Homo sapiens: one gene and its partners. The protein of the gene in region 1 interacts with the protein of each later gene in a pairwise test. Each region holds a gene or a part of one and is shown on either strand. Other genes may lie near its edges. The genes, in order: DRG1, ZC3H15, SKIL and RWDD1.

Region 1 (7,029 bases):
ATCTTGATATTTACATATGATACATATTGCAATTTCTGCAAATCCCCAACTCACAAAAATTTTTGTAGCCGTTCTTAAGCAGGCACAACCGAATCACCTGGAAAAACTTTTAAAATGTAGAGAGCTGAAACCCATCCCTGCAGATTCTGATTTGAAGGGCCAACAGATAGGGATCTGTACTTCAAAAGGCTTTACAAGTGACTCTGATGTATGTCCCCAGTAAAAAATGACTGCTCAGGCTGGGCCCAGTAACTCACACCTATAATTCCACAGCACTTTCCCAGAGGCCGAAGCAGGCAGATTGCTTGAGCTCAGGAGTTCGAGACCATCCTAGCCAACATGGTGAAACCCCGTCTGTACAAAAAATACAAAAATTAGCCGGGTATGGTGGCACACACCTGTAATCCCAGCTACTCTGGAGGCTGAGGCACAAGAATGGCTTGAACCCGACAGTCGAAGGTTGCAGTGAGCCGAGATTATGCCAGCCTGGGCGACAGAGTAAGACTCCATCTCAAAAAATAATAAAAATAAATAAATAAATTTTAAAAGATTTTAAAAAGATAAAAATGACTGCTCAACTGCCCAGGAAATGCAGTAAGGTAAAACTTCACAGAACTCAGTGTACCTAATGATGTGATTGAAAAACCAACCCCACAGCACATGTGATTCAAATTTACATCTCAGCAAAATTATAAACTATTAATTTGACTGCCCTTAAGAATCAGTCAAAACAGTTAAAACAAATATAAAATCTAAAAATACCAAGGGTCTACTGTATGGCAAATACTGAATTATACACATAAATGAACTGAAAACAGATGCAGCTTATTAAAACATCACTTAAAATATCTTTTTTTTTTTTTTTTTTTTTTTGAGAATGAGTCTCGCTCTATCGCCCAGGCTGAAGTGCAGTGGTGCAATCTTGGTTCATTGCAATGTCCGCCTCCCAGGTTCAAGCGATTCTCGCACCTCAGCCTCCTGAGCAGCTGGGATTACAGGTGCTCGCCACCATGCCCCACCAATTTTTTTTATGTATTTTTAGTAGAGACAAGTTTTCACCATGTTGGCCAGGCTGGTCTCGAACTCCTGACCTCAAGTGATCTGCTCGCGTCAGTCTCCCAAAGTGCTGGGATTATAGGCATGAGACACAGTGTCTGGCCTTGCTTTTTCATAGGGATTCTCAGCTGGGCATGGTGGCTCAAGCCTGTAATCCCAGTACTTTGGGAGGCCAAGGTGAGCGGATCATCTGAGGTCAGGAGATCAAGACCAGCTTGGCCAACATGGTGAAACCCTGTCTCTACTAAAAATACACAAAAAAATTAGTGGGGCGTAGTGGCGGGCACCTGTAATCCCAGCTCCCTCAGGAGGCTGAGGCAGGAGAATTGCTTGAACCCAGGAGGCAGAGGTTGCAGTGAGCTGAGATCACACCACTGCACTCCAGCCTGGGCAATGAAGCAAGACTCTATCTCAAAAAAAAAAAAAAAAAAAAAAGAAGGAAAAAAAGGGGAGTCTCGCTCCATCACCCAGGCTGGAGTGCGGTGGTGTGATCTCGGCTCACTGCAACCTCTGCCTCTCAGGTTCAAGTAATTCTCCTGCCTCAGCCTCCCGAGTAGCTGGGATTACAGGTGCCCGCCACCATGCCCCACTAATTTTTTTTGTGTATTTTTAGTAGAGACAGGGTTTCACCACATTGGCCAAGCTGGTCTCGATCTCCTGACCTCAGGTGATCCGCTCACCTCGGCCTCCCAAAGTGCTGGGATTATAGGCTTGAACCACCACGCCTGACCAAAACATAATTTAAATCAGATATGCTTTGCTCTAAGAATATAAGAAATTACAGAAATATACTTTGCATTAAATAAACTGCAATGAAAACTGATTTAGCAGGTGCGAGACAGTTCAACTTCTCCATTCAAGAACGTACTCAAAAAAAAAAAAAAGAAAAATGAAAATAAAAAATAAAAATAAAACAAACAAAAGAACATACTCAGGCCCAGGACAGTGGCTCATGCCTATAACCCCAGCACCTCAGGAGGCTGAGGCAGGTAGACTGCTTGTGTGCAGGAGTTCAAGACCAGCCTGGACAACATATTGAGACTCTGTCTCTACAAAAAAATAAAAAATTAGTCAGGCATGGTAGTGCATGCCTATAGTCCCAGCTACTTGGAAGGCTACGGTGGGAGGATCACTTGAACCCAGGAGGTCGAGGCTGCAGTGAGCCATGATCGTACCCGTGCCACTGCATTCAGCCTGGGTGACAGAGCGAGGGAGAATTACCATGAGGCAAAAGTACAATAATAACTGTTACAGACAAGACCCACAGATGGATGCGAAAATGAGCAGGCAAAAGTTTGAGGAAAAACAGGATTTGCATCTTCTTGAAGTATCTCCCCTAAAATATATATTAACTGTCCAAAAAAAGGTAACTTTAGAGAAACCCTACAGACACAACCATAACCAATTGATGGAGGACAATATCACCAATAAGACATACTGACAATATGAATCCCATGGTAGGAGGCACTGAGAAAGACAGTATCATTTCTGTGGTATTCTTGCCAAAAATACCTAATAAGTCTAACCAAGAGAAAACATCACACAAACCCAAATTGAGGAACATTATACAAAATAACTGATCATTACTCTTTGAGAGTGACAAGGTCACAAAAGATAAGACAGAGACTACTGCAGATGGCAAACAAATAGACAGAAATAGCTAAATGCATCATGGGATGATCCTAGATAAAAATTTTAGAAGAGAAAAAGGACACTGGTGGAAAAAACAGGTAAAAATTAAAATAAGATCTATAGTTTAGTGAATACTGTTGCAGAAATGTTCATCTATCTCTGATAATTTTTCTATGGTTATGTAAGATGTTAACAACAGGAGAAGCAGGCAAGTGATACGAGAACTCTTTGTACTATGTTTGCAACTTTTTTTTTTTTTTTCCGGGACAGGGTCTCATTCTGTCGCCCAGGCTGGAGTGCAGTAACACGATCTCGGCTCACTGCAACATCTGCCTCCCAGGTTCAAGCAATTCTCCTGCCTCAACCTCCCTAGGAGCTGGTATTAAAGATGCCTGGCTAATTTTTTATTTTTAGTAGAGACAGGGTTTCAACATGTTGGCCAAGCTCAAAAAGTTTATACAAAATGAGAGAAAAAAAGACCACGAGAGAGAATTAAAAGCTCACCAACATGAATGCAAAATTATGCAGAATGAAAGAAGCCTATGGAAAAGAAAGTGCATTTATATTTATATGTGGTTTTTGTTTATGTAAAGTTCTTAACATGTAAACTAATCTACAGTAACAAAAAGCAGGTAAGTGGCCAAGCGCAGTGGCTCACACCTGTAATCCCAACATTTTGGGAGGTCGAGGCAGGCAGATCATGAGGTCAGGAGTTCAAGACCAGCCTGGCCAACATAGTGAAACTCCGTCTCTACTAAAAATACAAAAATTAGTCGGGCATGGTGGCACATACCTATAGTCCCAGCTACTCAGGAGGCTGAGGCAGGAGAATCACTTGAAGCCGGGAGGAGGTTGGAGTGAGCCGAGATTGTGCCACTGCACTCCATCTTGGGCAACACAATGAGACTTCGTCTCAAAAAAAAAAAAAAAAGAAAAAAGAAAAAAGAAACGGCCAGGCATGGTGGCTCACGCCTATAATCCCAGCACTTTGGGAGGCCGAGGCGGGTGGATCACCTGAAGTCAGGAGTTCGAGACTAGCCTGATCAATATGGTGAAACCCCGTCTCTACTAAAAATACAAAATTAGCTGGGCATAGTGGTGGGCACCTGTAATCCCAGCTACTTGGGAGGCTGAGACAGGAGAATCACTTGAACCCGGGAGGCGGAGATTGTAGTGAGCCAAGATCACGCCACTGCACTCCAGCCTGGGCAACAGAGTAAGACTCCGTCTCAAATAAAAAAATAAATAAACCCCCCCACACACACACACATGCCCAACAGTATGAGCCTAACTGATGTTAGCAAGAACTCAAAAGGATAATCTACATGAATAATCTAAAACTGTTCAAAACTGGAATATGACTATAACTTCAAAAAGATCATCTGAAAGAGAGAATGAATAAACTGAGGGAAAAAGGGCAAGGGCTTTCTAACTGTGGCAGCTGAACACAGGCAGAAAATTTATTAAGGCCCGGCCAGGCACGGTGGCTCAAGCCTATAATCCCACCACTTTAAGAGGCCAAGGCATGTGGATCACAAGGTCAGGAGTTCAAGACCAGCCTGGCCAATATGGTGAAACCCAGTCTCTACTGAAAATACAAAAATTAGCCAGGTGTGGTGGCATGCGCATGTAGTCCCAGCTACTTGAGAGGCTGCGGTAGAAGAATCACTTAAATCCTGGAGGCAGAGGTTGCAGTGAGCCGAATCACGCCACTGCACTCCAGCCTGGGTGACACAGCAAGACTCTGTCTCAAAAAAAAAAAAAAGAAAATTTATTAAGGCCTCTACAAAAGTAAAGGCAACCTAAATTTAGCTTTTCTTCAGAGGGAAATATTTTAAAAGTTAGGCTGAAGAATTTAAATGTAGCAACTAATAATTCAACATTCAATAACAACATTCAATAAAATAGTCAATGCCTAATAAGTAACATTCAATAAAAAGTCAATGCTTTATATATCCGAATTTCATGTTACAACCAACCAAAACCTAAAAAAAAAATATTTATTTAAATCATGGGGCCTGGTGCAGTGGCTCACGCCTGTAATCTAACATCTTGGGAGGCCAAGGTGGGCAGATCACTTGAGGTCAGGAGTTCAAAACCAGCCTGGCAAACATGGTGAAACTCCGTCTCTACTAAAAATACAAAAAAATTAGCTGGGTGTGGTGGCATGTGGCTGAAATCCCAGCTACTCAGGAGACTGAGGCAGGAGAATTGCTTGAACCCTGGAGGCGGAGGTTGCAGTGAGCCGAGATCATGCCACTGCACTCTAGCCTGGGAGACAGAGCAAGATGCTGTCTCAAAACAAAACAAAACAAAAAAACATGGAATTACACAATTTTAAGGAATTAAATGTTAAACTACTTCAAACTCCAATGCCTTTAGAAGTTAAAGCAGGCGAGACCAGGCGCGGTGGCTCACGCCTGTAATCCCAGCACTTTGGGAGGCTGAGGCAGGAGGATCATGAGGTCAGGAGTTCGAGACCAGCCTGACCAACATGGTGAAACCCCGTCTCTACAAAAAAATACAAAAATTAGCCAGCCATGGGGGTGCGTGCCTGTAGTCCCAGCTTACTCGGGAGGCTGAAGCGGGAGAATCACTGGATCCCAGGAGGCGGAGATTGCAGTGAGCTGAGATTGCACCACTGCATTCTAGCCTGGGAGACAGACTCTGTCTCAAAAAAAAAAAAAAAGAAGATTAAGGATACCCACTAGTAAGCTTACATAACTTAGTTTCTGGAGAAAGCCAAAAGAGGATGAAAAACAGAGGCAGAGGACAAAGGGAGGAAAGAGAGCACCATGCAAAAAAAAAGTTGGGGGTCTCTAAGGTCAGAAGACACTGAAATGAGTGAAGGTTTTCTGGGAAAGAGGAGAGGAGTTAAGCAACTCTCTATTTTGAAATACTCAAAAGTCCTGAGAGAGGTGTCAATAGCATCCTACCAAAAAAAAAAAAAAAAAAAAAAAGTTATTCTCTTGAGCTGCCAAAGCTGTGACTCTCAACAAGACTCTGAAACCAGCTAGAATCAAGCCATGGTCCAGATATGTCCACACTGCTTCATTCTTGTTATATACATTTGGACACGGGATCCCAGAAAGGGACATGTGTCTCTGCATGGGCACCTGACCAGCTGGAAAAAGGGTCATTAAAAATACAACCAGGGGGCCGGGCGCGGTGGCTCACACCTGTAATCCCGCATTTTGGGAGGCCAACGCGGGCGGATCACAAGGTCAGGAGTTCGAGACCAGCCTGACCAGCATGGTGAAACCCCATTTCTACTAAAAATACAAAAAATTAGCCCGGCATGGTGGTGCTCACCTGTAGTCCCAGCCCCCACCCTCAGGTGAAAAAGTAGTTCAAGCGATTCTCCAGCCTCAGCCTCCCGAGTTGCTGGGATTACAGGCATGTGCCACTACACCCGGCTAATTTTGTATTTTTAGTAGAGATGGGGTTTCTCCATGTTGGCCAGGCTGGTCTCGAACTCCCGACCTCAGGTGATCTGCCCGCCTTGGCTTCCCAAAGTGCTGGGATTACAGGCGTGAGCCACTGCGCCCGGCCCTTTCTCTGCATTTTCACATGCGCTATCCCATTTTATTATCGTACTGCTCTATTTCCCCTACCAGGTAGTAAGTGCCTGGTAGATCAAAGATCAGGCCTGGCATACAGTGAGCTCCCAATAAACTTCTTCCTAAATGAAGAATAGATTTCTTTCCTTCCTTAGTCTGCAGGCTTGACTCACCTGGATCTTGGCACCTTTGTATCTGATGACACCAGGCACAGTGGTCAGAGTAGTGAATTCATAGGCTGCCACCTCAGAATATACCCCTGCCAGGTTACTAAGCAGTGTTGACTTCCCCACAGATGGAAAACCAACAAATCCAATTCGAGCATCACCTGTCTTGGCCACATCAAAACCTAAAACATCAATGAATACCAAAAAGAGGAGAGTTATCCCCCAGAGTGTTAAGACTCATATAACTTCTTTCACATTTTTACTGCCTATCCCTCTAGGCACTATTTCTCAAACTTTTTATGGTTTACCTTTAAAGGAGAACTAAAGCACACAAAACTTGAGGGCACAGCAATTCACAAAATTCAATGCAGTGTTTGATATAAAAAAACTGTATTCAAAAAAGTCAGGCACAGTGGCACACATCTATAGTCCCTGCTATTCCAGAGGCTGAGGCAGGAGGATCTCTTGAGTCCAAGAATTCAGGTCAAGCCTGAGCAACATGGCAAAACCCTGTCTCTACAAAAAATACAAAAATTAGCCAGGCATGGTGGCATATGCCTGTAGGTCTCAGCTACTTCAGAGGCTGAGGTGGGAGGATCGCTTGAGCCCAGGAG
Region 2 (6,631 bases), on another chromosome or scaffold:
ATTTATATTCGCAAATAACAAAAGCAACATATTATTTGAAAATACAAAACATAACAATAAAAAAGGTGTAGCTAGTACTAAATATGTCATTAGCAAATTGTGTCCATTTTAAATGTATTATCACCCTAATTTTTCAGGGGCTCTTAGTGCCAAAGACCCTCAGCCCAAAGTTTTCTGGTGAATTTGTTTATACTTACAGTAGTATGTACTATTTTAACACCATGAATCTCAACAAACAATTCTTAAGCATTACTTGATTCAACTGCAGGTGATATTTAATTTGGTTGATGTTGTATCAATTCAGAAGTTACTCTTTTATATAACATCTCCTAAAGTCTCTTTTTGGAAGCTTAGTATTTGTGTTATTAAACTCATTGTAGTACTGTCAAGTACTCTAGATGCTTCTGTAGTAAATATTAAGAAAACATGCCTATGTGATATTATAACAGGTATTTAAAATTCTCAAGCTAGAAATGTTAAATTTTTCATAGAAAAACTTAAAAAAAGGCCCATATTTGGATTTTAATGTATGATGGTCTTTATTTACAACTTTATTGGCAAAAAAGAAAAGGGAAACTTTTAAACAATTTAACACAGGGCATTGTAGCTGATCCTGTCAGATAAAAGAAGTTCCATTTTAAATGTCCATCTAATTGTCCAAAGATACACAATACTGAATCTGCATACGCAGTTTCCTTTATGAAGTACAGTGCTCATGTTTTAGGCAGTCTTCTAAACATACAAATACAGAGGAAATTAAATCACTCATTAAAAACTGTGTCAAATGAAGGGTATTTTAAATATAAGTTTGTTGTTTCTGGTAATAGCACATGCCCAAATGAAAACCAAAAGATGGAAAGGCAGATACACTTCTTACTTGGGTGGACAGTTACAACATCAATCATTTTCTGCAATGACCATTATATTTTCAATTTATCATGAACTACTCTGAACTTACTATGAGATGTAGCCAAAGTCAGAAGAGAAGATGTAGGGACAAGATGCCTTTTTTGCAGGAGGTTAACTCCTCCAGAATCAGCATAGGAAATAAACATCCTGTTGATTCTAGGTGGAAAGAAATTAATGTAGTCAATTTCAACTCGTGCTGAGCTGACTTAATTTTTTCAGCGATGTGTTTGGTGTCATTCTTCTAAATCAAGTGTATTTAATTCTTCTTCTAGTTCATCCAAATCCTCTCCAGTGAAAAGATTTTCATCAACAGGAACAGCATCAATGGCTCCATTTTCCGTTCCCTCCCTCTCGTTGTCCTCTTCCAAGTCACTTCTTTCACCATTTTCAGCCCTACCTCCAGAAGCTTCACTTAATTTGTTTTCTAAATATAAAAACTGGAATCAGTAAGGCGTAGAAGCAGAAAACACCATTCCACATTAGCAATAGACAACATAGACTGATACTACACTTCCTCTTTTCCTTTTCTCCATGAAAGCCATTTCCCCAGAATTACTCCAGCAAGAACTGATCATTCTTTTCTGAGCTTATCTGTGCCAATTATCTATACCTACTATAAAATACTGTTTTTCACTGTAGCCATTTGACTACTTAATGGTTTATACATTTGAGGGCAGGATCAATCTTCTACACCTCTGTGTTCCCTACATGACCTAGCAATTAGATTTTAAATAGTCAATTTCCATATAATATTTTATTTGACTAAATGGTTATGGAAACCAAAAAAATGTTTGTAATATAAGCAGCTACTTGGCTTTTGGTTTTGCAAATAGTATTTAAATCATGCTGTTGTAATGCTGTGATTGTGACAGCAGAAAATCTTCATCATGTAATCAAATTGTTAAAAAAAAACATAGTGCTATACAGCTACTTTTTCTTATAGGTTATAAATAACTGAGAGAAAAAAAATGCTGCCTTTTCTTGTTCAATGCCATTGACAATTACACAGACATTTTTTAACAGCCTAATTTAGATTTTAGTTATTTCAAACATCTCTGATGACAAAGTCTTGGGAATTTTATAATCTCTGAATTATTTGCAGTTGTGCCTATTGTCACCAAAGCCCCTACTTCTACAAAGAGCAAGTCAATCTGAATACTGGCAAGATAGTGGTTTGCTAACACTCTCAGATCTTGGGAGGGCAAGCTGGTTTTTCAAGTTACAGCTTGTGTGCTTTTATTGTAAAAATAATGTTCAGCCTTTTCTGTCTCAGCTTTTGCCTTAATGGGCATTTCTTCTGCTGTTTTCTCCCAGAGCAAGCATGCCAAACTTTTACCCCTTTCTTCAAGTACCTAACTCAAGGCACAATTAGACATAAATTATACCAACAATCCTAGACAGCCTTCCCTCCATTCTCATACCTAACTCATTATTTATACTTTCATGTATTGCTTCTATAACTAATCTTTTATCATCAACTTCTCCTCCTTACCAGATCCTCTTCCTCTGAGCTACAGATACATTTAGGTTTTCCATATCCTAAAAAGCCCTTCCCATGACCATGTCTTCCCTCTAAACATTAAGAGAGAGAGGACTGTATTCATTTTTCTTCTCACCGTTATCATTGCAGTCTCAATGAAACTGGCACCCTATTCCTATAACCAATTACAACCAGTAACTTATTTATATTCTTTTTCATCCTACTTGCTTCTTTGGAAACTTGTTTCTTGATTTTTCTCTGACCTTCTCAATGTCTTTCCTAAGCATTTCTTCTTTTACTTACCCCATAACACTGATGTTCTGTAGGGTGTTCATGTCTACACAATATCCTAGACAGTGCACTTTTGATAATCAAAAAATCTCAAACTCATGAGGTCCCGAAGTGAACTCATTGACTTTAACTCCAAGCTCATTTTTGTCTCCTTCTAGTTTCCATTAATGATTTTAATATACACCCAGCTGCTCATGTCTACAGCCTTTCACTATTTATTACTGCTTTTATTTATGGTCAAACCACACATTTATGTTACCAATCTGGTACCTGCACACATCTAAGTTTGCCAAGCCTGGTATAACCCCCTTTAGATAACTTCCTAGTTCTTAAAATTAGGCAAAAGTTAGCATACTTACCATCTTTATCTGAAGTATATGTGCTGAATCTTTCAAGACTGGCTACAGTAATACCTGTTTCATCTACATCTCTTGGGATGTACAGGCTTAAATCTATGTCATTTACACTCACTGAATCATCAACCTTTAACAACATATAGAAAAGAAAGTTGTTACAAATAAGAACAGTTTTCTTTTACTCCTGACATTTATCTTAATGAGCCAAAATTATCACTGATCCAAGTGAAAACAAAAGACCAATTACTGGCCAGGTGTGGAGGCTCACACCTGTAATCCCAACACTTTGGGAGGTCGAGGTGGAGGATCACCTGGGCTTAGGAGTTTGAGACCAGCCTGAGCAACAAAGCCAGACCTTGTCTCTATAAAAAACAAAAACAAAAGATCTATTTTCAAAATTATTTTTTCTAAACTTCGTTTAAAAAGAATAGCAAGGTGGTATATGAAACTTCTTCCTCTGCCATCACATTTTTATATATAGAGTACAATTTTTTTCTTTCAACCCAGAGGCCAGAATTTTGTAAGTACACAAAAAATCAACAGTAAGTTATCTGTTATTACTAAATCTGTCAACAACCAAATGACTGTGCTATTGTCTCATGCTCCCTACACTGCAGTTTTAAATTAGTGCACTTGTCCCATAACTTTTAAGCATAAAATATTAACCAAAAAATAACTCTCTCTTTTAGAGGGAGGACAAAACATACTTTTTACAGGTAATACATATAGCACTCAACCACATACTAGGCACTGTCCTAAGCTGTATAAAGAACTACTAATTCATGAACTCGATTAATTCTCACAAACTATGATGTAGAGATAATCATTATGTCCATATTAGATGAGGGTGGAGGCCTAGATTAATTTCCCATGGTTGGAGTAAGGATTTGAACCCAGGCACTGTGGCTCTGATGTTGGTGGCTCTTAACCATGTTGTGGTATTTTCTATTGTTTCTTTCAATTAACATAAGGAGATGAGGCACAAAGCTTCCTCTTACCTCATCACCACCTGTTCCCTGGGTGTAGCGGGTATCATCTGCTTCCTCATCATCATCATTGACCAGTTCAGGACGAAATTCAAACACTTCACGACCACTGATCTATTGAGACACACAAATATATCAACTCAGGACAAAAATCTAAACATTCCTTGTCACTGATGAAATAGAAACAAAATCTTGCATGACACAGAAATTGAAAATGGAAGAATAAAGAATCAGTTTGGGTGAGCCTGAGACATACCACTAGTGCTTTCCCTGCTTTGAAGTCAGCTTTCCTTCTTTCCATATCTTGTTCAAGTTTATCAATCTTTTCTTGTCTTTTCCTTTTCTTCCAGGCAAGAAAAGATTCTAGAGTGATTTTGGTAACATTTGGACCTAGGGCAGAACGCTGCAATGGTAAAGAATTAATTTTTTTTCCACAGAAGTCACCTCAAATAGTGCTTAGTTGCAGTTATCTCTTAATGTGATTAATTCCTTGCCCATGACTATCCTGAAGATATTACATTGGAATAAGCTAATTTATGTATTTTTTTACTTTACGTGGCAATGAGCAAAATGAGTATCCAGAGATACAAACACTAAAAATATATTATTCTGAGCTAGATTTCTTCTCACCATTGAAGATGAGTAACTTGTCATAAGAAATTGTTTTAACATGAATCAATTGCTGAAAATAATAAATATATTATAAAAAGCACCATAACAATATCCAAGTTTCATTTGTGTTCCTGAGAAGATGAGAAATAAAACTAAACAAACAAACAAACAAACAAACACCTACTCCTCAGGGCCAATAATCAAATAATAAATATATAGAACAAAAAATTTGCTGAACACTTGCCAGGTATTAAATGCTTTACACACACTATGCACTGATCCCCACAAATAGGTGAACAAAGGGTAATGGGGAATTTACCAAAGATGAATAGCTAACAAGTGTCAGAACCAGTATACAAACCATCTCAAATATACCTGATTCTGAAGTCTACATTTTCTATTATAGTGTGTTATATCCTGAGTGAGACACTAAATAATAAGGCAAAATGGATATAGTTTTTAATATGCAACCCTAAATCTAATGTTTCTAATAATCTCAAAATTTTCATAGAATAAAACTGTGTTTTGTACGGAGCCAAAGACAAGTAGCTGAATATCCTCTTCAGACTCATTCCCTTCTATAAGCAGAGTGAGTGTTTTGAGTCCAGAGCTGATAAAACATATAATTTAAAAACTAGAGTGTTGTCTTCTTCCGTACATATGCTAATAACTAATATACTAGTGAAAAAAGATATCAGGGCGAAAAATCTAAAACTATAAAAATTCAACCAATCTGAGAACTAAGCATTTTTAGTAACTCAATCTTACAGAAATAATTTGATAAGCCATTAGCTAGTACTTAAAAGACTGTTTCACAATCCTAAAATTAATGTCATGATTGGCTAATGTTTATGGCTAGGTTAACATTTTACACATACAAGAATAATTAAAGTAGGGCAACTTTGGGAATAGATCACAATATTTTTTTTTTCCTTTCATAAAAGGCTATTGCCCCAAGTGGTAAGTATTAGAATTTCACAATAAATACTGCTTTCAGTTTTTATGGTAGGAAAAGGATACCAGTTACCTCTCTCTCAATTAGATCTTCTAATGAAATTTCATCTTCTTTCTCTTCTTTCTTTTTATCTTTTTTCAACACAAATCCAGGAGGAAGTGCATGACGATACATGCAAATATCACCCCCTCCAGGGCATACCCAAAACCAGCCATACTTGTTGTTTTCAATAGCTTCCAGGAAATGCTTGCACACCTATAGAGACAATATTATTCACAAGCGGTGGCTCAGTGTAGGCCATTTCCAAGGTAAATGCCTGAGTATATGGAACAAGTATACACACAAGTACGTTATATTACACAAGTACATTCTATTCATTTCTGCACATAAGGGTGCTCTGTCTAGCCTCTATTCTGTGCAGAAATGCAACAGAAGTTTATCTTAAAATATGTAGAACAATGGCAAATTCCCTTAAAGGGGAATCTATACAGTTTTCATTTGTTCTAAATTCTAAATCATACGAAAATGACTTACTTGTTTCAGTTACCCTTTGTAAATGTACGCCCCCGAATCAGAATATACAATTAGCTATAAAAAATAAAATCAGGCCAGGCGTTGTGGCTTACACCTATAATCCCAGCACTTTGGGAGGCCGAGGCGGGCGGATCACCTGCTGAGGTCAGGAGTTCAAGACCAGCCTGGCTAACATGGTGAACCTCCACTTCTACTAAAAATACAAAAAATTAGCTGGCCGTGGTGGCACATGCCTGTAACCCCAGCTACTTGGGAGGCTGACGCAGGAGAATCTCTTGAACCCGGAAAGCAGAGGTTGCAGTGAGCTAAGATTGCGCCACTGCACTCCAGCTTGGGCAACAAGAGCAAAACTCCGCCTCAAAAATAAAATAAATAGAATAAATGATTTTCTTTGGTTTGATCTTTCCTAAATAAAAATGAATCACAAGCAGTATACAGGAGCAAGGTACAAAAGGAACACAAAGAGAGTGACCCTTCACAACATGGATAGAAGATACAATTGTATTTA
Region 3 (7,029 bases), on another chromosome or scaffold:
GAGACTGAGGCTGGTGGATTGCCTGAGATCAGGAGTTCGAGACCAGCCTGGCCAACATAGTGAAACCCCCATCTCTACTAAAAATACAAAAAATTAGCTGGGTGTGGTGGCAGGCACCTGTAATCCCAGCTACTAGGGACACTGAGGCAGGAGAATTGCTTGAACCTGGGAGGCGGAAGTTGCAGTGAGCCAAGATTGCGCCATTGCACTCCAGCCTGGGCAACAAGGGCGAAACTCCATCTCAATTTAAAAAAAAAAAAAAAGGGTATATATAGTTCTTAACTTAGTAAAGTGGAGACTGTCAGCCACATGCTACAATAGGGAAGAATCGGCCAGGCGCAGTGGCTCACGCCTGTAATCCTAGCACTTTGGGAGGATGACGACGTCAGGAGATCGAGACCATCCTGGCTAACACGGTGAAACCCCGTCTCTACTAAAAAAATAGAAAAAATTAGCCAGGCGTGGTGATGGGTACCTGTAGTCCCAGCTACTCAGGGGGCTGAGGCAGGAGAATGGCGTGAACCTGGGAGGTGGAGTTTGCAGTGAGCTGACATCGCGCCACTGCACTCCAGCCTGGTCAACAGAGCGAGACTCTCGTCTCAAAAAAAACAAACAAACAAACAAAAAAAGTGAAGAATCACCTACAACAAATGACCACTTCCAATATGTTTGAAAATAATCTTAAGTAAACATTACTCTTCAAATTTTATTTACAAATGATTAATTTGCCTGTTGATCTTTTTTTCATACAAACGTAATATTCAACAAAATTAGAATTAGATCAAATTTATTTTAATTTTCTATTTTTGTTTACATATATTTGATCTACTTCTGATTTTGCTGAATATCCACTGAAGATGTGAAAAAGAATCAGGAATGTGATGTTTGCATGTATTTATACAGTTTAAAGTAAAATAATGATTATTCCAATAAAAAACACAAAAAGCTCGTATCAGGTAAGTAACTTGACAACATTCTGTAGAACAACATAGGCAGATCTAAAATCAAGTATGTGTGTGTGTGTGTGTGTCTGTGTGTGTGTGTGTGTGTGTGTTTTGAGACAGAGTTTCACTCTGTCACCCAGGATGAAGGGCAGTGTGAACTCGGCTCACTGAAACCTCCACCTCCTGGGTTCAAGCCTGCCTCAGCCTCCCAAGTAGCTGGGATTACAGGCGTGTGTCACCATCCCCTGCTAACTTTTGTATTTTCAGTAGAGATGGCGTTTCACCATATTGGCCAGGCTGGTCCCGAACCCCTGACCTCAGGTGATCCACCCAACTCAGCCTCCCAAAGTGCTGGGATTACAGGCATGAGCCACCGCGCCTGGCCTAAAATCAAGTATATTTCTTATGGCGACTTGAGTAAGAAAGAGTTATTAGCTATATTTAATTAAGTTGTCTCATTTCAAATTATTTATAATTTACAAGATACTACAACTTATTAACATTAAAATGTATTAATATATTACATATTTTATAATTGTAAAATAATTAAGTTGTTTCATTTCGAACAACTTACTGAGTTTCAGGACTTTTTTTAATCCAAAAGCAATACTTTGATTACATAAACTATATACGCATGTCAAATCATGTCAGTATTCACACCAAACATCAGGTCCTTTACATAACACGTTAATATATTTAGTACAGTCTTAAAAAAAAAAAAAAAAAAGGCCAGGCGCAATGGCTCATGCCTGTAATCCCAGCACTTTGGGAGGCCGAGGCAGGTGGATCATCTGAGGTCAGGAGTTCAAGATCAGCCTGGCCAGCATGGTGAAACCCCGTCTGGACTAAAAATAAAAAAATTAGCTGGGTATGGTGGCAGACGCCTGTAATTGCAGCTACTTGGGAGGCTGAGGCAGGAGAATCGCTTGAATCCAGGAGGCGGAGGTTGCAGTGAGCCAAGATCGCGCCATTGCACTCCAGCCTGGGCGCAAGAGCGAAACTCCATCTCAAAAAAAAAAAAAAAAAAAAAGCCTAGTTTGACTTTTTAAAATGAGCTCCCTCTGGGTCAATTTGGCTTGTTTGGCAACCAACTCAATGACTCACAGAAGAAAATAAAAACTGTTCCTCAGTCAAGGACTATCTCATTCTCAGTTAAATACCTTAGTATTTAAATTTATATGCAGGTTAAAACAGAGTTTGAGAACCATCATAGAGGCTGAATATCCCTTATCAGAAATGCTTGGGACCAAAAGTATTTTGAATTTCTGATTTTTTCAGATTCTGGAATATGTGCACGATATGGCAGTTGAGCATCCCAAATCCAAAAATCAAAATCTGAAATACTCCAATGAGCATTTCCTGTGAGTGCCATGTCAGCATTCAAAAAGTTTTGGCCTTTAGAGCATTTCAGATTTTGGATTTGGGATGCTCAACCTGTACTAAGGTAAATTGATAAGAAAAGTTAATGTTTCTCAAAATTCAGTTTCTGCTACTAACATGTGCTTCAGGGGCAAATAGTGAAAAATTACTAAACTTCGAGTTAGAAGCCCTGTATTCAACTCCTGATTCTGGTTATACAACCAGGAGCATGTGACTCATCTAAGAGGTGGAAATATTGTCATTCACCTTCCTCACAGACCCTAAAAAATAAGTGTACTTCACAATGTTCTGAGTACGTTTTTAAAACGTGAAGTGGTAAGCATAATAAAACAACCACTCAAGTACGTATTAAATATGAACCAAAGAAAAGAATCTTTCTTAAAGTATGGGTGTTTGAAATTTTCTTAAATTCCTTTAAATTTCTCAAATTCACATAAAATTACAAGCAATATCAAAATACACCACAAACACTAATTCAAATACTGCAAAATATAACACAGCAAAAAGATCAGAAAGAAACTCACACCTTCCTAAAATCGAAAATGTATTCAAATCAGTGAATTCTGGGACAAAAAGGGATTACATCCCAGACGAAGGATGGTTTCAGTGTTAACCAAACCTCAGCACATTGTTTCAGTTAAGTAAATTAATCCATCATCTTTTTTTTTTTAAACCTTTATCATGGTTCTCAGATGTTTTTCACATAAACACAGAGCAAGAATATTAGGAAAAGTAGTTTATCCAAAATACACTTATGTCAGACTAATAATTAGACTGGGGCGGGCCAGGCGCCATGGCTCATGCCTGTAATCCCAGCAATTGAGAGGACGAGGAGGTCGGATCACCTCAGGTCAGGAGTTAAGACCAGCCGGCTAGGCTGTAAAATCCCATCTCTACTAAAAATACAAAAAACAAGCTAGGCATGGTGGTGGGCACCTGTAACCCCGGCTACTTGGGAGGCTGAGACAGGAGAATCACTTGAATCTGGGAGGTGGAGATTGCAGTGAACTGAGATCGCGCCATTGTACTCCAGCCTGGGCAATAAGAGCGAAACTCTGTCTCAAAAAAAAAAAAAAAAAAAAAAAAAAAAAGACGGGAGCAACAATATCTGGCAAATGTGGCCTCCAACAGACATGTAAGAGTAGACCACCACTGGGCATGGTGGCTCACGCCTGTAATCCTAGCATTTTGGGAGGCAGAGACAGGCGCATTGCCTGAGCTCAGGAGTTCGAGGCCAGCCTGGGCAACATGGTGAAACCCCCTCTCTACTAAAATACAAAAGAAATTAGCTGGGCATGGCGGTGGGCGCCTGAAGTCCCAGCTACTCGGAAGACTGAGGCAGGAGAATTGCTTGAACCCAGGAGGCAGAGGTTGCAGTGAGCCGAGATCGTGCCACTGCACTCCAGCCTCGGCGACAGAGCAAGACTTGTCTCTACAAAAAAAAAAGTACAGCACCTAATTAGCTTGGGGGCAAGATATCACAAATATCAAAAGGGGCATTCCACATTTTGAAATATAATCTCTGAGCACAAACTTCAGCACGGGACAAGTCCAACTGTAAGCAAGTTCTACACTGAGCACTGGCTTGAAGTCAATCCTGATTTAAAATTAGTTAATAGGCCGAGAGCAGTGGCTCACACCTGTAATCCCAGCACTTTGAGAAGCCAAGGCGGGTGGATCACCCGAGGTCAGGAGTTTGAGACCAGCCTAGCTAACATGGCGAAACCAGTCTCTGCTAAAAATAACAAAAATTAAAGGGTGTGGTGGCTGATGCCTGTAATCCCAGTGACTCAGGAGGCTGAGGCAGGAGAATCACTTGAACCCAGGAGGCGGAGGCTGCAATCTGCCAAGATCGCGCCACTGAGCTCTAGCCTGGGCAACAGGAGCGAAACTCTGTCTCAAAAAAAAAAAAATCAGTTAATAACTACACCTGAAGAATATAAACTTATCTAGCAGCCACTGGCAAGAAATTTCAAAGTGCTGGTCTTCTGGAAGCAGCAAGCAGCAAACTACCATAAATGAGTCTAAAATTATTATCTTCATTAGGCTTAACCAATGTCTTAAACTACACTGTTAACTAAATTTCCCTCAAAACCTTAAAGGCACCAGAATAAAGCTCAGGATCCCAAGTCTTAAGGACTAGTCCAAGCTCTAACTTTGCTGTGAATAAACCTTCAGTCAGTCATTTAATATGCTTTATTCATTTCTTCTGTAAAATAGAAATGGGCAAGGATATTTCAAGGAATCAAAACTAATAGTGGAAAAATTCAAAGTTCCTAAATGAAACACAGCCAACCTCTTGTTAAGAATTAAATAAAATTATATATGTAAAACTGCTCAAGAATAATGTTTGCCACATTTTAAACACTTAGTGTTAGGAACTGTTATTACACATTAATTTTAGTCAAATAGGAAAAAATATAAAACAACCCGATCAAGAAACTAAATATTTAATAATCCCAATCTTGTCCATTACCTCGGCATTCAAAACCTTGGAATGAAAATAATAGTTTAGCCTACTAGATAATGCAGCAGGAAAAATAAAATTATGATACCTTGGCTGATAGGTGGTTGTGTTTTTTTTTTTTGAAATGGAGTCTTACTCTGACGCCCAGGATGGACTGTGGTGGCGTGATCTCGGCTTACTGCAACCTCCGCTTCCCAGGTTCAAGCGATTCTCCTGGCTCAGCCTCCCAAGTAGCTGGGACTACAAACACACACCACCATGCCTGGCTAATTTTTGTATTTTTAGTAGAGATGGGGTTTTACCATGTTGGCCAGGCTGGTCTCAAACTCCTGACCTGAAGTGATCTGCCCACCTGGGCCTCCCAAAGTGCTGGGATTGTGAGCCATTCATTGCTCCCACCTGTTGATAGGTTGTTTGTTTGTTTTGTTTTGTTTTTTGATGGAGTTTCCCTCGACGCCTACGCTGGAGCGCAATGGCACAATCTCGGCTCACTACAACCTCCGCCTCCGGGGTTCAAGCGATTCTCCTGCCTCAGCTCCTGAGTAGCTGGGATTACAAGTGTGCGACACCACATCCGTCTAATTTTTGTATTTTTAGTAGAGATGGGATTTCACCATGTTGGCCAGGCTGGTCTCAAACTCCTGACCTCAGGTGATCCACCTACTTCAGCCCCCCAAAGTGTTGGGATTACAGGTGTGAGCCACTGAGCCCGGCAGGTTTTTATATTAATATTTTATTAGTTTAAAATAACTTTTCCTTACTCTAGCTGTCATTTTTTTTGTTATTCCTTTCAAATCACAAATTCTTCAGATACATGTCTTTTCCATTTGTTTCAAATATTGAGCAAGCCTGAATATCCAAACATAGAAACATCAGAAATCATAGGTGTATCTCTGAAAAATGCTGTTTTGAGCCCACGGGAATTGTGGCCATTGTACCATTTGCAAATGGAGATAACACCAAAGCGCAAATTATCGAGTCCTAGAAAAACAACAGATGTAGTGGTCAAGAAGCAAGATGTGTGCCAAAGAGGATAAGAAAAAGAAGCCCTGGCTGGACACAGGGGCTCAAGGATGTAATCCCAGCCCTTTGGGAGGCCAAGGTGGGCGGATCACGCGGTCAGGAGTTCAAGACCAGCCTGGCCAACATGCTGAAACCTGGCCTCTACTAAAAGCACAAAAAAAAAAAAAAAAGAAGCCCTAACTCCTCCACTCCCTGGCTACATAATTTTGGGAAAGTCATTTTATCTCTCTGAGCTTCATTCACTTTATCTGTAAAACGGAATAATAGTCTTACTTCTCTCACAGGATGTTTGGAAAGTCAAATGAGGAAACATACTGCAAAGCACTTTATGGCCTAAAAACTGCAATACAAATATATCAATCGGTATTTTGTTGTTGTTGCATGAGCAATGTTCAACATACAGGTTAAGTTACACACTAAACATAGAATTTTCATTTCAAAGTAAACCATTACCATTATTAAAAATTGATATAAAAAACTTGCCTTGGATTGATTTCTCTTTCCACTTCTCATGCTAAACTTCTCCTTCATTTCTTCTAAAATTATCTTCAGTTTCTTTTCTTCAGGTGTTCCTAAGTATTTTTGGTTCACATGAAGATAGCAATGCCATTTAGCTGATTCAAAGCCCCAGTGGCAAGTTCTTTTGTCAGGTGATCTGTGAGAATGCATCACAAACGTCTGGGGTGCAAACATTCCACAACACTCCAGACATTGAATACACGGAGCATCAGGCTGAACATAAAACTGGGGTGCAAATAAACCCTGACATTTGCCTAGGCATTCATGCTCCACTTCAAAGGCACTGCCAGTTTCCTTTAACTGGGCCAATGAGCTTTTAGCAGGAAGTACGCTACCATTTTGAGGAAAAGTTCGTGGCCGCAATAAAGCATTACATAATCTTTGTGCATCAGTTAATGTAATCAGCCCACAGGATGGGGCATTGAATGGAAGTATGCCCAGTACCTTTAAGATATGAAGCTGGTCTGAAGTACACCTTGAACAATATATGTACAGTTCATCACACACTGTATTTATTTGCTGGAGTGTAAATTCTCGGAGAACAGAATTTAAGACTTGGGGCAAACAGAGTCTCTTTTCTCCTCCAACTTGAAAACAAGAAATAGATTCCCCTTCCAACACAGTCTGAGTGAGTTCTGTGGAGCTATCTGAAGGGATGAGCAATGGGCCAGGAAGAACCTGAGGTGATGGAAGAGG
Region 4 (6,885 bases), on another chromosome or scaffold:
CACAAATTACCTTTAGTTTCCACAAAATACGAGAGAGCCCATATTAAAATAAGTACCTCTGGTTGTTAGGGAGTGTCTGACCTTTCAAAAAGTATGACTTAGAACAAACTGCTTTTACAGGACGACTTCTTACCTATCTCAAGATACAATTATAACTGTCAAATGTGAATGGCTGCTGCTTAGAGGTACTGACAAAGAAATACAGGATTATGTACTCCTCTTTGTAAGGCAAACAGAATTAAGGAAACTTGGCTTTTGGTTAACCTGATGCCAACAAATGCGTTTCAATAAAACTCCCCACAGCCAGAGATTTCAATACATAAATTGAAATAACCAAATTCTACTACCTTAGCAGGACCTTGTCAAGTGAAGCACTACTGAAGGAGAATGTGGTATCAGGAGAGTCCATTTATATTTTGGAAGACTAGTTGTTAGGAGGGTTGGATCAATGTGCAATCAAGCTACAGAATAGGCAAAAAGAAGAAATTGTATTATGATTTGTTATAATCACAACAAATGCAACACTGGACCAAAACTTCTTTGCAAATAGTCAAAGCAATTAATTCTGAGGTTAGGCTAAATCTATGTGCCTAGGTCTATAGGCTGGACTGTGTCTCTTCAGCATCCACATGGGGTCACGTGTACTTAACAAATGCTTCTTTGTCAAGCACTCAGTCATCCATTAAAAAAAAAAAGTATATCTATTTCCTTCATTAATAGTATTGAGCATTAACCAAATTCAATAATTAAATGTGATTCAAAATGAAGTTACAAAACTCCCATTTAGTGTTCCTTGGCCAACCGACACAAGCAAGATCTCTTTCTTAAACCTGGCATGAGAATACAAAAGTATGGAATCATAAATACAAAAGAAGGCTATAAAACAGAAAATCTTGCAAATCTCCAAGATTTTAAAAGATCAAACATGGAAACATTTTATTTCAAAGTCCTCTGCCTTTTCCCCAAGAGTTTTCATAAAGAACATGATCACTAGGAAGGCAAAGTTCCCTAAGAACTATAAATAAAGACACCTCATTTTAATTTATTTATTGCAAAGCTTGTAGAAATGTTGACAGGAGTTAGAGACAGATGGCTCATCTGATAATGCAGAATACCTGAATGCATCAAAAGATTCATAAATTGTCTTTTATTACCCTGGCTCAGAATCCTCAAGCACTTGGGCATCTGATAAGAATTTCACATAGCGAACTATACCAGAGCTGTCAGGGCCTAGTACAATTTGAAATACCCACAAGATTATTTCAGGGTTAAAAACAAAAAAAGATATCAGTTTTATAAATGCTTATATGCATAGGATTTAGCGAGGGATAGCTTATGTCCAAAGAAATGAAAAGAATAGCACATCCTGCTGTCTTGACTCTGCCTACAGTGTTCATACCTAGTATGTTTCCAAAGTACTGGAAATGACCAAACATGATTAAGAATATATCCAACAACTGACCCTATATTCTATTTTAGACATACACATATAAGCAAGGATAGAGAAGGGAGCCAGACTCCATACACACTCACCCAGTTAATGACACTCTCAAACCCCTCTTCACTCATCCCCTTAACATCCTCACAGCACAGATGTACTGCTGGTGAGAGAGAACATGAACAGGACTGGAGCTATACAGGGATAGCTGAGAGACATCTGCCTGTTGGCAAAGCAGAACAAAATTTGCTACCATTGCAAGCAGTGGTCAAAAGGTGAAGCCAAGAAAACTAAGCTAAACAATGAAAGGGAGAGGGGTTGGAATTTATAAGTTAAAGTAATATACCTTACACTATAAATTCTGACTATCAACGATAGGCAACACTCAAAGGAAAGGATGGGGAATGTAAATGCACACACCTAGGTTCTACTCACTCATATTGGCTTTATTTGACCGCTTCTCAAATCTCAGAGGAGCCATATTGATATAGTTATGTAGCATTTTTATAATCATCCGAAGCATGGCTTAATAGAGAAATCTCGTCCTCTAAATTATACCTAATGAACTTCTCATTATAATATTTTACATTAGCCCAACCTACCAAGTAATCTTCTGCTCTCTCAATCTCAGCTGGAGCTGAATCCCAAGTCCCATATGTCTGGAAAGTGAAAGAACAGGCAAGCGTTCTGGACGTATAACTCAGTACCAGCCCTGCCGCTAACTCGCTGGCGGACAGTACAGAGCAAGCCACTTAGCTTTCCTGAACCCCCATGACCTTGGCTTGGAGCAGGAGCCCCAGGATAGATGATGTTTAATCTCCCTTCCAATCTAACAACCTATGAATTTATAGCAGAACGGAAATTTGGGCCACATTATCCATTAGGCATTCTGCTGAATGCCAGATTTTTTTTTTTTTCATAAGAAAAGAAACCCGACAGACTTCAGGGACTATGCTACTCTCAAAACCGATTTGAGTAACTGAAAACAGCACTCTGAATCCTATAAACTAAAACAGCATCGTATGAAAAACAGTTTCTACCTTAATAAAGCTAAAAATGTGAAAACTAACATTCTTGCGGCTGTGGAAAAACGAATCGCACTTGGAGTATTTTTTCTCTTAATGTATTATAAATCTCAGGTTGCTGTAGGTTACACAGAAACCAAAGTAATCCCGACTCAATTTTCAGGCCTGACACCCTCCAACATCACCCGGACTTTTAGATTTCCGGGAACAAGCAGAGAAGGAGAAAAAGTCACTGGGTTGCTGGTAAGTGACTGAAGAACTTGAGGAGTGGAGGGCAAGGTGGCCGCGCGGCCTCAAGGTCCCCTTCTCCACCCCAACCTATGAGGCCCAGAGCTGCGGCAGCTCCTGCCCGTCCTACTCCACCTCGGGGCGGCTACAGGCTTGCGGCCGCGGGAGTCACCTGTGAAGGAGTCAGGGTAGATGGACTCCAGGGCCTCCAGCTCGTTGCGCTGCTCCTCGCCGTAATCTGTCATCGTGGCCCTTGCTCTTGCCCATAGATCGCCCAGACACCTAGGCGGCGCGCAGCAGCCCAGACAGCTGCCGCGCCGGGAGAGCGGGCGGCGGCCAGGCGGGCGCAGGCGCAGAGTCCCCGGCTGGAAGGCCCAGGGCCCAAAGCCAGACCCGGCTTGCTTAACTGCAGCTCCGCGCCGGCCTCCGCCTGCTCCCTACTTCCACGTTCGACTCGTTCTGCCTGGCCAGGGGGCACTGATTTGCTGCCTGTCCCACACTCGCTCGGGACTTGCTGGGACGGTGCGCGCGGTCTGGCATTCGCCAAGGACACCTACAGCCGGCTCCTGGGCTTTGCAGGGCCTGAGCCTTAGAAGCCTCTCAGCGCTGCATCCTCGCTCGATGAGTCTGGGCTGAAAGGCCGGCATCGCGCGTCAGTGAAGGATAGTGTCGCTGGTGGCCGGGCTGGGGCGAGGGGCGTCCGATGCCTTCACCTTTTCTGGTTTCCGGTTTGACGCCGTGGCGTAGGTGCTGCGGGCTTGCAACCTAGTGTGGACTGGTGGGGCTCAGGAGATTTCTGAGCTTCTCGAACTCCGTATTGCTTGGCGTCCTACGGGAGTTGGACGAGAGGCTGGGACCAGTGTAGATTCCACTGGGCAGGGGAGCAAAAGCTCTGCACTGCCTTGAATGAGTATGGAAGGGTCGGTCTAACTGCTTAATAAGTCGGGGTGGATCCAGGAGGGAGAAATAGACCGGAGGTCCGGCTTCTCGGTTCAGATCTTTAGGCTTAACTTCTGATTTTGTGAAATGAACGCAGCTGGACGTATGATAGATCTCAAGATGTCTGTGATTGTGTATTTGTGAATTGATGAAAGGAATGTAGATCTCAGTAATAACAATTATCATATGCAATGTAAAAATTGCAGTACCCCGAGAAATGTTGAGAACCTTTAATTTGGTAATACGACTTCCAAGAATAAACTTGAGCAAGTAGCATGCATCTGTGATCTCCAAAATCATTGCAGCAATTACAAAGAAAATTTTCAAAGAACCATGATGGCAAAAGCTAAGAAAATGGCTAAATAAACATGGTTAGCTTTATGAAAATGATATTAAAAACTATGGTAACAATAATAAAGGATCCCATGTTCCTTTATTATATTATTGCGCTAAGTCGAAAAATGGAAAATTTTAAGAAAATACTCAAAAGCTGTTGCCCACTTTTCTGTATTTTTCTTTGTTTTGATTTCTCTGTATTAAAGCTGGTTTCACTGGTATAGTGGGAGGAACACTTTTTAAATGAAAGATTCCTAATGATGAAGCCCCTGAAGCACCAGAAGGCACCTTGATCTTTTATTGAGGAGTGCTGCTTACCTATAGCAGAGGAACACTTTGATACTGATTCCGTGTTTACGGTATTAAGGGTTGATTTCAGGCGTTCTTTTAAACTTTAATGAAAAAGTGGAGTCTCCTAACTATGATGACAATCAAATAAAATACATAAAGTAACTTTGCAAGTATAAGTTGCTCATTTTTTTTGGATCGCCTCAGTTCAGAGGAATTATACTGATTTATTATGAGGAAAGAGCTGCCAGAGGAAACAGCTAGTGCATTAAGTCCTAAGTGGGGAGTCAAGGATGATTTTTGGCTGGAAGAACTGGAAAGACGAAGTTCTGTTGACCAAAATAAGTGAGGAAGACAGAATCAAATTTGGCAAGGAAGGTGGCATTACATCTTTAAATGACTCCTAGATGAAAGAAAATCAAGCAAAATTAAGTTTTTTTCTCCTAACAGAATAATAAAAACAACCTACCAAAAGAAATGAGATGCAGCAAAGCAACAAACATACAAGGTTTACGTTAGAAAAAGGTTACTTTTGGTTGCCAGTTGCAATCCAGTAAATGTACCTCTTTATTTTCATTCCTATTTCATTAACAAAATTTTTGGTAAAGCATCCTTTTCAAACCTTATGTATCACTGTAAATAAACCCTACATGCTTCAGAATGCTCAAGAGTGTTACTTTGATACTGGAGATGGCTCTTGTAATCAAGAAAACACTTCCGCAAATCTTTGTCACACCTACATAAGCATTATTAAGCATTTTTTAGTGGATCTCTAATTTCATTTTGACCATAACACATGCTTAACACAGCACAGCAAGTCCCTTAACTGAAATTGTGGAAAATTCTCATGAGGCAAATTGACTTTCTTTTAGTGTTTCATTTTTAATCGGTAGGTAGAGATGTTACAGACCAAGTGTTTTAAGCTCTGCAGGTAGGCAAATGGTGTGAGTCACTGATATGGTTTGGCTGTGTCCCCACCCAAATGTCATCTTGAATTGTAGTTCCCATAATCCCCACGTGTCCTGGGAGGGACCAGGTGGAGATAATTGAATCACAGGGCCGATTTTTCCCATCCTGTCCTTGTGATAGTTAGTTCTTATGAGATCTGATGGTTTTATAAGGGTCTTCCTTCTTCGCTGGGCACTCATTCTTCTTCCTGCAGCCATGTGAAAAAAAGGATGTGTTTGCTTCCTCTTCTGCCATGATTGTACGTTTCCTGAGGCCTTCTCATTCATGCAGAACTATGAGTCAATTAAAACTCTTTCCTTTATAAATTATCCAGTCTCAGTTATTCCTTCATAGCAGGGTGAGAACTGACTATTACAGCCATCATAGGATCTGGAACCAGAAGTGAGAAGCCCAGGCTTAGTCATTTGCAAGATACATAAGCTTATAATTCAGATGACATGAAATAATGTGTAAGCATGTTGTGTAAACTCCATATAAATATTATTTACTGGTAATTAAATTCATATACCATCTTGTAAAGCATTGCTATTCTCTGTTCATCTTTATTGCTAATGAAATTGTCCCTAAGAGATTCATCTTATTTGTATTCTTCTTAGTTTCTTCTGCAGGTAGTGCATATTAGCAGTTGCTGTTTACTAATGCTATCAGCCTTTAAAAATTATTTTGATGTTTATTTTTACTTTTCTGTGCCTGTGAGTTTTCTAGGCAATCACACTACTCTCAGAAGCTCAGTGTTGAGAATTCCCTATTTCATGCTTAATTTTAATTATCGAACAGTTCATGTGGCTAATGTTTCATTTACTCAGGTATCTCAAAGACTTTACCAGTCACAAGCACAAAGAGCCATATAAAATTTTAATTTTGTGTACTCTGAACAGAAATATCTTCAAGGGTAGTGAATCTCAGTAATACTTTCCAGCCTAACTCACTTCCCTGGCCTGCAGTCTACTGTGAGTCAACACAGAAGCCAGAGTGGTTCTGTTACAATGTAAACCAGTCCATATCACTCCTTTGCTCATAACTGCCCCATCCTCATCTCAGATTAAAACCATGTGTTTATAGTATAGGTCCTAGAGAATCTGGCTTCTTGATCCTCACCCTCACAGCTCTTCTTTCTCTGCCTTAGTCTGTTTTCTGGACTAAGCTTATAACAGAATACCTGAAACTGGGTAATTTTATTTCCTACAGTTCTGGAGTATTGGAATTCCAAGGTCATGGGGGACATTTGGTGAGACCTTCTTGCATGTGGGGACTCTGCAGAGTACTGAGGTAGCACAGGCCATCACATGGCGAGGGGGCTGAGTGTGCTCACTCAGGTCTCTCTTCTTATTCTACTCCACTACTCCAGCCATACTAGCCTCTTTGCTGTTCCTCAAGCATGCAAGGCAGGATTTCCTCGTAAGGTCTTTGCACTTGCTGTTCCCTCTGGAATGCCGTTCCTCCCATACCCATATGTGTCACCTCCTCCCTTCCTTCAAGTCTTTCCTCAAAGGTCACTTTCTAAATGGGGTTACCCCAACTCGACCACCCTACTTAAAATTACAACCACTCCTAGCACTACCTATCCCCTTTAACTCATTTTTCCCATGCTTCTTTAAAATTACACTATTTATTTATTATGTTTATACTCTTTCTCCCTGTAGTAGAATGTAAGTTCCATGA

What was found.
Region 2: the proteins of DRG1 (region 1) and ZC3H15 interact in binary tests that used the Homo sapiens proteins (3 or more experiments, as listed by UniProt).
Region 3: the proteins of DRG1 (region 1) and SKIL interact in binary tests that used the Homo sapiens proteins (3 or more experiments, as listed by UniProt).
Region 4: the proteins of DRG1 (region 1) and RWDD1 interact in binary tests that used the Homo sapiens proteins (3 or more experiments, as listed by UniProt).

What each region holds. Positions count from the first base shown.
Region 1 is NC_000022.11:31,402,597-31,409,625, reverse strand, and holds part of DRG1 (developmentally-regulated GTP-binding protein 1), read right to left. Parts: intron 6,598-7,029; coding exon 6,422-6,597; intron 1-6,421. UniProt on the Homo sapiens protein: Catalyzes the conversion of GTP to GDP through hydrolysis of the gamma-phosphate bond in GTP. Appears to have an intrinsic GTPase activity that is stimulated by ZC3H15/DFRP1 binding likely by increasing the affinity for the potassium ions.
Region 2 is NC_000002.12:186,503,245-186,509,875, reverse strand, and holds the end of ZC3H15 (zinc finger CCCH domain-containing protein 15), read right to left. Parts: intron 5,845-6,631; coding exon 5,662-5,844; intron 4,426-5,661; coding exon 4,279-4,425; intron 4,137-4,278; coding exon 4,035-4,136; intron 3,164-4,034; coding exon 3,040-3,163; intron 1,334-3,039; coding exon 1,143-1,333; 3' UTR 515-1,142; downstream 1-514. UniProt on the Homo sapiens protein: Protects DRG1 from proteolytic degradation. Stimulates DRG1 GTPase activity likely by increasing the affinity for the potassium ions.
Region 3 is NC_000003.12:170,360,698-170,367,726, reverse strand, and holds part of SKIL (ski-like protein), read right to left. Parts: coding exon 6,298-7,029; intron 1-6,297. UniProt on the Homo sapiens protein: May have regulatory role in cell division or differentiation in response to extracellular signals.
Region 4 is NC_000006.12:116,567,634-116,574,518, reverse strand, and holds the start of RWDD1 (RWD domain-containing protein 1), read right to left. Parts: upstream 3,016-6,885; 5' UTR 2,937-3,015; coding exon 2,864-2,936; intron 2,098-2,863; exon of another isoform or gene 2,041-2,097; intron 1,662-2,040; exon of another isoform or gene 1,534-1,661; intron 462-1,533; exon of another isoform or gene 348-461; intron 1-347. UniProt on the Homo sapiens protein: Protects DRG2 from proteolytic degradation.